Regions from separate parts of the Homo sapiens genome. Here region 1 is linked to region 2. The links come from fine-mapping of genetic effects on gene expression. A gene starts in region 2. The other region holds a variant in brackets. All regions are shown on one strand. Distances are from middle to middle.

The links. PIP is the estimated chance that this variant, and not a neighbour inherited with it, causes the effect. A credible set is the group of variants that fine-mapping cannot tell apart.
Region 1: its variant is the best candidate, but not a certain one, in a credible set for the expression of ZNF154 in whole blood (TOPMed, PIP 0.82).

The regions. Positions count from the first base shown.
Region 1 is chr19:57,734,115-57,739,613 of GRCh38, reverse strand. No RefSeq gene overlaps it. Among named protein-coding and RNA genes, the nearest start is that of ZNF671, 9.2 kb to the right of the region's middle. The variant C/T (reference allele first, on the strand shown) is at 2,607.
Region 2 is chr19:57,706,722-57,711,982 of GRCh38, reverse strand. ZNF154 (zinc finger protein 154) reads left to right here and starts at 2,779. Exons shown (of 3, transcript NM_001085384.3): 1 at 2,779-3,044. The coding sequence starts at 3,012. RefSeq lists enhancers at 2,599-2,658, 2,679-2,808, 2,552-3,191.

The sequences.
Region 1 (5,499 bases), 28 kb before region 2:
AATCTTTTATTCATGTTTCTGAAGTGTCTTTCCTTTCACTAATGGGAGAGGAAGTATTAACTCTTTCACTCATCAAACACAAGTTAGTAAAATACCAGAGACTCAATTTGCAAATCATGCCCCCAAAAAGACAAAAATGCATAACCAAAAAATGTTATAAAGACACTAAATGGCCACTCAAATACTTTAAACAGTCTTCTTCATTTCCCACTGGTAAAGATCTTACAGTGGACTTTGTGAGGCTTAATATTTTCAGTCAGTAATGGAAGGAAGAATATTCAAAGAAGGTTTCAGAGGAAATATAGAGGAGAGGCATAAGGCAAGGAGAGGAGGTTGCACCATGTCTCCAGGTCCCTCAGAGTATGTCTCAACCTCAGAGCAGAACTGGTTCCTTCTGATTGTAACACTCTGTAGGGACCAGCCCCACAGGGTCGGTGGGTCTCTCCCTGTGTGCGGTGACGAGAGAGTGTAGAAATAAAGACACAAGACAAAGAGATAAGAGAAAAGGCAGCTGGGCCCGGGGGACCACTACCACCAATGCGCGGAGACTGGTAGTGGCCCTGAATGTCTAGCTGCACTGTTATTTATTGGATACAAAGCAAAAGAGGCAGGGCAAAGAGTGTGAGTCATCTCCAATGATAGGTAAGGTCATGTGGGTCATGTGTCCACTGGACGCGGGGCCCTTCTCTGCCTGGCAGCCAAGGCAGAGAGAGAGAGGGAGAGAGAGAGACAGCTTACACCATTATTTCTGCATATCAGAGACTTTTAGTACTTTCACTAATTTTGCTACTGTTATCTAGAAGGCAGAGCCAGGTGTACAGGATGGAACATGAAGGTGGACTAGGAGCGTGACCACTGAAGCACAGCATCACAGGGAGATGGTTAGGCCTCCGGATAACTGCGGGTGGGCCTGACTGATGTCAGGCCCTCCACAAGAGACGGAGGAGCAGAGTCTTCTCTAAACTCCCCCCGGGGAAAAGGGAGACTCCCTTTCCCGGTCCGCTAAGTAGCGGTTGTTTTTCCTTGACACTAAGGCTACCGCTAGACCAGACTTCCCAGATGCTGGCATCACCGCTAGACCAAGGAGCCCTCTGGTGGCCCTGTCTGGACATAACAGAAGGCTCGCACTCTTGTCTTCTGGTCACTTCTCACTGTGTCCCCTCAGCTCCTATCTCTGTATGGCCTGGTTTTTTCTAGGTTATGATTATAGAGCGAGTATTATTATAATACTGGAATAAAGAGTAATTGCTACAAACTAATGATTAATGATATTCATATATAATTACATCTATGATCTAGATCTAGTATAACTCTTGTTGTTTTATATATTTTATTATACTGGAATGGCTCATGCCCTCGGTCTCTTGCCTCAGCACCTGGGTAGCTTGCTGCCCACAACACTCACCTGGGAATAGTTGGTATTTACTAATTCACATTTACAAAACCGTGGCTGGAGTGTCAGCATTCCTGCCATGGGGAAAGTGGATATTTGAACCCTGAGAAAAGATTCTGGGTACAATAATCTCACCTTCTTGCTGGGAAGGAACTATCATTTCAGCAGTAAGTACAATGATAGTTTCGGCATGGGGACTGGAGATTACCTCTGGAAAACAGCTTGGACTGAGAAAATTAGTTAATATTGTGGATAAATGAAGTTACCACTGAGAATGACATAAGTAGCTAGAAAAGTTTCTGTGAAGTCTGAGAACACATAAATCTCAATGGATAGTGAGCAGAGGACATGGGGCTGTAAGTTCTGAGATAATTAAGTGGAGCCCATGGCTATCCTAGAGACTTGACTAACATGAAATTCTTATTTCTACAAAGTGTGTATTATTTCAATTTCTGAGAACTCAGGAAAAACCAACTGAGAGCCAAGGAAATAGTAAGGTAAGACTAGAAAGATGTCATAGAACAGAAAGAAAGCGATGGTGGCATCATATTGATTCAATGTCTTGGAATCTGCATCTTGTCACCTGGGGACACATTCTTTGATACAAAATGGAGGACCAGCTCATAGCTCCTGTGGTATTGAAAAACAAGTACTCCGGCCAGGCGTGGTGGCTCACGCCTGTAATACCAGCACTTTGGGAGCCCGAGGCGGGCGGATCACGGGGTCAGGCCATCGAGACCATCCTAGTCAACATGGTGAAACCCAGTATCCACTAAAATACAAAAAAATTAGCCAGGCGTGGTGGCGCACTCCTGTAGTCCCAGCTACTTGGGAGGCTGAGGCAGGGGAAATCACTTGAACCTGGGCGGAGGAGGGTGCAGTGAGCCGAGATCGCACCACTGCACTCCAGCCTGGTGACAGAGCAAGACTCCATCTCAAAAAAAAAGAAAAAAGAAAAAAAAAGTATTCCTTACAGTAAAGGAATGATATCACTGAAGAATATATTAGGTTCAAATATGTCTTTGTTTTACTTTTTCTTATTTCTTATTGAAATGGAAATAGAAAAAAAATTATTTTAGTATCAGGGTAATACCAACCTTGTATGATGAATTTAGAAGTATTTTCTCCTCCTCTTATTTTTGGGAATAGTTCGAGTAGGATTGGGGTTAGTTCTTTAAATGTTTGGTAAAATTCAGTAGTGAAGCCATTGGGT[C/T]CCAGGCTTTTCTTTGCTGGGAAAATTTTTATTACAGCCTCAATCTCATTGCTTGCTATTTGTCAGTTCAGGTTTTGGATTTCCTCATAATTCATCTTGGTAAGTTATATGTGTCTAGGAATTTGTCCATTTTTTCTATAATTTCCAATTTTTGGCATACAGTTGATCATAGTAGCCTCTAATGATCCTTTGAATTTCTGCAGTATTGGCTGTAAAGTCTTCTTTCTCACTTCTATTTTATTTGGTTTATCTTTCTTAGTCTGGCTAAAGGATTTTTTATTTTGTTTACTTTTCAAAAAACCAATTTCTCGGCCGGGCGTGGTGGCTCACGCCTGTAATCCCAGCACTTTGGGAGGCCGAGGTGGACAGATCACGAGGTCAGGAGTTCGAGACCAGCCTGACCAACATGGCAAAGCCCCGTCTGTATTAAAAATACAAAAATTAGCCGGGCATGGTGGTGGGTGCCTGTAATCCCAGCTACTTGGGAGGCTGAGGCAGGAGAATTGCTTGAACCCAGGAGGCAGAGGTTGCAGTGAACAGAGATCCTGCCATTGCACTCCAGCCTGGGTGATAAGAGCAAGACCCCATTTCAAAAAAAACAAACAAAAAACAAACAAACAAAAAAAATCATTTTGTTGAACACATTTGTATTGTTTTCTTTGTTTCAGTTTCATTTATTTCTGCTCTAATCTTTATTATTTTATTTTCCTTTTTTTTTTTTTTTTTTTGAGACAGAGTCTTGTTCTGTTGCCCAGGCTAGAGTGCAGTGGCGTGATCTTGGCTCACTGCAACCTCCACCTCCCGGGTTCAAGCAATTCTCCTGTCTCAGCCTCCTGAGTAGCTGGGACTACAGGTGCCTGCCACTACGTCTGGCTAATTTTTATATTTTTAGTAGAGATGGAATTTCACCTTATTGGTCAGGCTGGTCTCGAACTCCTGACCTCCGGTGATCCACCTGCCTCAGCCTCCCAAAGTGTTGGGACTGCAGGCGTGAGCTACTGCGCCCAGCTATTTATTTTCTTCTACTCACTTTGGGTTTGGTTTGCTCTAGCATCTCTAATTCTTTAAGATGCATTATTAGGTTGTTTATTTAAAGTTTTTTTTTTTACTTTTGTAATGTAGGCACTTATAGCTATAAACATTCTTCTTAGTACTTATTTTTCTGTATCCCACAGATTTTGGCATGCTGTGTTTCTATTATCATTTGTTTCAAAAAACTTTTCTTTTCTTTTTTTTTTTTTTGAGACAGAGTCTTGCTCCATCATCCAGGCTGGAGTGCAGCGGCGCAGTCTCGGCTCACTGCCACCTCCACCTTCTTGGGTTCAAGCAATTCCTCAGCCTCATGAGTAGCTAGGACTACAGGCGCCCGCCACCATGCCCGACTAATTTTTGTATTTTTAGTAGAGACATGGTTTCACCTTGTTGATCAGGCTGGTCTCGAACTCCTGACCTCAGGTGATCCACCTGCCTTGGCCTCCCAAAGTGCTGGGATTACAGGCATGAGCCAATGCGCCTGGCCTCAAAAAACTTTTCAATTTCTTTCTTTTTTTTTTTTCTCTTTGAGATGGAGTCTCACTCTGTCTCCCAAGCTGGAGTGCAATGGCGCAATCTCCACTCACTGCAACCTCCACCTCCTGGGTTTAAGCAATTCTCCTGCCTCAGCCTCCTGAGTAGCTGGGATTACAGGTGTGTGCCACCATGCCCGGCTAATTTTTGTATTTTTAGTAGAGACAGGGTTTCATCATGTCGGTCAGGCTGGTCTTGAACTCCTGACCTCGTGATCCGCCTGGCTCCACCTCCCAAAGTGCTGGGATTACAGTCGTGAGCCATCATGCCCAGCCCAACTTCTCAATTTCTTAATTGACCCACTGGTCATTCAGAAGACGACTGTTTAATTTCCATGTGTTTGTAGCATTTTGAAAGTCCACTTGTTACTGATTTCTACTTTTATTGCCTTGTGGTCAGAGAAGGTACTTGATATTATTTCAATTTAAAAAAGTTTCAAGACATATTTTATGGCCTAACATATAGTATTTCTTTGAGAATGATCCATGTGCTGAGAAGAATAGGTATTCTGAAGCTGTTGGATGAAATGTTCTATAAATATCTATTAGGTCCATTTGTTCTATAGTGCAGATTAAGTCCATTTCTGTCTGGAAGGCCTGTTCAATGCTGAAAGTGGGGTGTTGTCATCTTCAGCTATCACTGTGTCAGACTCTATCTGTCTCTTTAGCTCTAATAATATTTACTTTTATATCTGGGTGCTCCAGTGTTGAGTGTATATATATTTACAAAGATTATGTCCTCTTGCTGAATTGATCCCTTTAGCATTATATATAATGACTTTGTCTCTTTTCACAGTTTTTCTCTTGAAATCTATTTTTCTGATATACATGTAGTTATTCCTGCTATTTCGTCGTTTCCAGTGGCATGAAATATCTTTTTCCATCCTTTTATTTTAATCTATGTGTGTCTTTATAGGTGAAGGGTGTTTCTTGTATGCAATAGAGCATTGGGTCTTTATTTTTATTCATTCAGCAACTCTGTGTGTTTTGATTGGAGACTTTAGTCCATTTATATTCAATGTTTTATTAATAAGTAAGGATTTACTGCTGCCATGTTGTTTGGTGGTCTTCTCTTCCTTCTTTCCTTCCTTCCTGTCTTCCTTATTGTGAAGGTGATTTTCTCTGGTTGTATATTTTAATTTCTTTTTAAAAAATTTTTTGGTATCTGTTGTAGGTTTTTGAATTTAGTTTACCATGAAGCTTCCATGGTAAACTATATCTTATAACCCATTATTTTAAACTGATGACAACACTGATCCCATAAACAAATAACAAACAAGAGAAAAACTAATAAAAACATTACACTTTAACTATGTCACCCAGCTTTT
Region 2 (5,261 bases):
AAATATAGATGTAGAAATAAATTTGTATAGAAATGTGTGCAAGTGGCCGGGCACGGTGGCTCACGCCTGTAATCCCAGCACTTTGGGAAGCCGAGGCGGGCGGATCACGAGGTCAGGAGATCGAGACCATCCTGGCTAACACGGTGAAACTCTGTCTCTACTAAAAATATACAAAAAATTAGCCGGGCGTGGTGGCAGGCGCCCGTAGTCCCAGCTACTCAGGAGCCTGAGGCAGGAGAATGGCGTGAACCTCGGAGGCTGAGCTTGCAGTGAGCCGAGATCGTGCCACTGCACTCCAGCCTGGGCGACAGAGCAAGACTCTGTCTCAAAAAAAAAAAAAAAAATGTGTGCGTGCATGTGTATGTATCTGCTTTCTCTCCAAGAGGACCTAATAATCAATGATTTACCAGTAGAAAAGAGCACAGCTAATGCTTACTAATATTTACAAGCATTGTTATCTATTGAAGAAAACCAGAGCTCCTTGAAAAAGAGGCTGATTCTGGGGCTGGGATAGCAAGGGTACAACATGAGCCTGAAAATATTTTTGGATTAGAAAGTAATGAAATTATCAATAATATTGACATAAAAAAGCAGAGAGCACAGCTTTAATGAGTTCCCACTGTCCAAACATCTGGGAGAATCTGAACATTAAAATAAATGTTGGGGCCGGACGCAGTGGCTCACGCCTGTAATTCCAGCACCTCGAGAGGCCGAGGTGGGTGGATCATGAGGTCAGGAGTTCAAGACTAGCCTGGCCAAGATGGTGAAACCCTGTCTCTACTAAAAATACAAAAAATTAGCTAGGCATGGTGGTGGGCAACTGTAGTCCCAGCTACTCGGGAGGCTGAGGCAGGAGAATGGCGTGAACCTGGGAGGCGGAGCTTGCAGTGAGCCGAGATCGCGCCACTGCACTCCAACCTGGGTGACAGAGCAAGATTCCATCTCAAAAAAAAAAAAAAAAAAAAAAGTACATTACCTTGCTGAGAATTAAAAAGAAAATTTTATATTCGAGTGCTATTTATTTTGCGGCTCCAAAACTTTATAACAAAGCAGCAGAGATTTCTCGGCCAGGCTCGGTGGCTCATGCCTGTAATCCCAGCACTTTGGGAAGCCGAGATGCGTGGATCACCTGAGGTCAGTGGTTCGAGACCAGCCTGGCCAACATGGTGAAACCCCGTCTCTTCTAAAAATACAAAAATTAGCTGGGTGTCATGGCGTGCGCCTGTAGTCCCAGCTACTTGGGAGGCTGAGGCAAGATAATCGCTTGAACCCAGGAGGTGGAGAGGTTGCAGTGAAACAAGACTGCGTCATTGCACTCCAGCCTGGGCAATAAGAGTGAAACTCCATCTCAAAAAAAAAGAAAAAAAAAAAAGAAGAGATTTCTCACCTATATACCCTGAGTGTCTCTGCAGCCAGCAAAGCAGATGAAGGCCTGCTGGGTTGGAGCCCTAGGCCCTCCAATGCTGAAATGCCCTGTGAAGTCTCCATCCATCCAGGCACTCTAGTAACCTGCTTCTTCTGCCTGGAATTTATTCTAAAAATACCCACATGGCTCATTTCTCACTTCCTTCAAGTGCATTTCACCGGCTTTCTGATTAAGAAGTCCCACCTCTCCCCTTTGTCTCTTATCAAAGTAGCATTTCTTTCATTGTTTTTTGAGATTGATGTTAGACTTCTAGAAGGAATATATCTCAGATATCAAGTAAGAATTATGAAATGGATAAAAGCGTTGCTCAGTGAATTGGACACAGTTATTGACTGGACACAGTAATTGGACACAATAATTGACTATGCAGGCAAAAGATGTTTTCTGTTGGAATCAGACAGAATTCTACCTTTGTACTACTGTTTCAAGGTGATCTAACATTTCTCTTCTATCTTCTAGAAGCACTATCATGCCACTATCTGAAGTAGTTTTTCACCTGTCCCTGACCAAAAGTGCACAGACTGACTTCAATGCTTCGGAGTGCATACATTTGAAATGTAATATGATAGAGGCTGGGTACGGTGGCTTACGCCTGTAATCCCAGCACTTTGAGAGGCCGAGGCGGGCAGATCACCTGGGGCCAGGAATTTGGGACCACCATAGTGAAACCCTGTCTCTACTGAAAATACAAAAAATTAGCCTGGCGTGGTGGCGCGCGCCTATAGTCCCAGCTACTTGGAAGGTTGAGGCACGAGAATCGATTAACCCGGGAGGCGGAGGTTGCAGTGATCCCAGATGGCGCCGCTGCACTCCAGCCTGGGGGACAGAGGGAAACTTTGTCTTAAAAAAAAAAAAAAAGGAATAAACTTATATGGTAATGTTTATTAGCTTCCCTACTAGTGGATATATTTCGTGTCTGAATGGCTCTATGGAATGATGTACATATTTGGATTGGCAGCCTTAGGGAGCGTCTGATAATAATTTTAGCCTCTGGGAGCCTGCTGAACTTTATGAAGTTTGAAATAATATTCCCCAAACACTTGGGTGATCAGTTGCAGATGGCACCTCTAATATGCTGTCTGATTACGACCCATTTAAGAAAGGGCGAAGTCCCTCCACTGCCCTAGGACTTGGATAAGCCATTTCTCATCGCCCAGCGCCCTGGAGCTTCGCTTTTACTCCAAGAGGTTGGTGCAAAGGGTCCCCGGCACCCACCTCGGGATCTATGAAAACTACATTACCTAGAATGCTCTGCGTTGAACGCCACGCTACTAAGCCAGTAAGAGCTCAGAAAACCGACTTTCCTTGAGAGTCACAAAAAGAAAGGACGGGACTTTTGGGGGGGCCTCTTCGTGGCGGCCATTTTAGCTTCTCTGAGGTGTGTTCACCGGATCAGAGATAGCAGAGCGCCGAGTTGGGGCCACGAAGGCGTGAGGGGAGTCGTCGTCCCTCCTGCACGAAAGCGTCTAAGCCTTGGCGACGCCGCCCTGGGGGACCCACGTCAGGCCTGGGATAGGGACCGCTGTCCCCGGGTCCCTACCAATGTCGCCCGTCGCTCCCGGCCCAGCTCTACCCGCAGAGTCTGATGGCAGCGGCCACTCTGAGGACGCCAACTCAGGTGAGTGCGGCGTCTTCCCGTCCTCACACACCTTCCCCCACCCACGTTCTAAAGCCATCAGTGAGGGGCGCCTGCTCGAGTCCCCGCTGCCCAGGGTCGGGGACACTGAGGCGTTCGTGGGTGGGGCCCTTTTTTTGACACTGCGTGTGACGAGGTGTGGGAGAGCGTGACAGGCGGAGGAACCGGCGCGTGCAAAGGTTGAGGCGCGACTGAGCCAGGAGAATTCGGAAAGCTGTTTTCTGCAGGGAACGAAGAATATGAGGCGGAGTTACTCCTAGGGTTGTACTGTCATTGTGAGGATGCTAGAAGCCACGGAGAGTTCTGAACAAAGGAGGGACGCCATTTATGTTAGTTTTTTTTTCTTTGAGACGGAGTTTCGCTCTTATCGCCCAGGCTGGAGTGCAATGACGCGATCTCGGGTCACTGCAACCTCCGACTCCCGGGTTCAAGCGATTCTCCTGCCTCAGCCTCCCCAGCAGCTGGGATTACAAGCCTGCAGCTGGGATTACAACGTCCGGCTAATTTTTTGTATTTTTAGTAGAGACGGGATTTCACCATTTTGGCCAGACTGGTCTGGAACTCCTGACAAGTGATCCTCCTGCCTCGGCCTCCCAAAGTGCTGGGATTACAGGCGTGAGCCACCGTGCCCGCCCTATGTTAGGGTTTAAAAACTTTTCCAAAGACTGTTCACAGGAAGAGCAGCGATGGGGCGATGAGGACATTGAGATAGTGGGAGGCTACATCTTTTTTTCATTGCCCTACAGTTGGCAAGAGGTGACAGCACTGAGACCAGAAAGTAAAACAGCCAGCCTGAGTTCAGGGCCAGGCAGGGCTACAGGGAGGCTTGAGCTCATCTAGCCTCACCAGGGATGCATTCCTCTTTCCCTGGTTCTCCCAGTTGTAGAAGGGCGTATGGAACTCACATAGGGAAGTGGAGAGTGTTCGGTCCCTCAGTAGCCTCTACCCCCATGTTCTTGGGATTGTGGTTTCCTAGTATTCTTAAGTGCTGTTACCCCAATCCTGGGTCTGGTGCCCTGGAGAAATTCCAAGCCCAGGGCTCTTAAGTCCATGCCAGAGGTTACAGGGGTTATACTGAGGTGTTCCCATTTTTGTCAGCCAGTGGAAACTTGTGAAAGGTTATCTCTGGCACTGGTATCAGGAGGCGCAAGTGCTTAGTAAAACTAAGCTGAGATTTTTGAGGAAACCATAGATCTGTTTCCTTTTAGCTGGGAACAAAGAGCAGGGGGAAGGAGTCAGGACTGCAGTGGCTGCCTGAGAAGTTGGGTACCTATTCTGGAGGTAATGAGAGATTTGGGTTACAAGAGGGAGGTGATCTTACCAAAGTCCTAACAGGGTCCATCCCGTTAGCGTGGAGAGCAGACTGTGGGGTTGAGGGAAGAGGAAAGAAGATCAGAGTGGAAGCTACAGCCAGTCCAGGGTAATGGACCAGAGTCATTGATTAGGAGATGTGTTGCATTCTGGATGCAAATTTTTAAAGGGAGCAACTAAATTTTCTGATGTAGACAGCGAGGGAGTGAAACAGGATTCAGCGATGACCCCATGGTTCTTCAACTGAGATGGAGAAGTTGGTATTAACAGTAATATTCACTGGAGACAACAGGAGCTTTATTTGGTCATGTAAGAGTTTGAGATGTTTCAGAGACATTAAGTAGGCATTAAGTAGGTGGCTGAACACCCAGGTCTGGAAATCTGGGGAGTGCTTCAGAATGGAGACATCCAAAATGTGGTGGTCATTGTGTGGACTAAGGTGAGTGAGCTGTGGATTACATTTAGAAGGGTTGTTCTATTTTTTTTTTTTTTTTTTGAGATGGAGTGTCTCTCTTGTTGCCCAGGCCAGAGTGCAATGGCGCGAGCTTGGCTCACCACAACCTCCGCCTCCCGGCTTCAAGCAATTCTCCTGCCTCAGCCTCCCGAGTAGCTGGGATTACAGGCATGCGCCACCACGCCCGGCTAATTTTGTATTTATTTAGTAGAGACAGGGTTTCTCCATGTTGGTCAGGCTAGTCTTGAACTCCCAACCTCAGGTGATCCACCCGCCTCAGCCACCCAGAGTTCTGGGATTACAGGCGTAAGCCACCGCATCCGGCCTACAAGGGTTAATCTTTAGGCATGGTGGTACAGGTTATTTGGCCAGGAAGGGCAGAATGGGGGCTAAGGACCAAGCCTTTTGGTTGGATAAGTGGGTGATATTCTTGG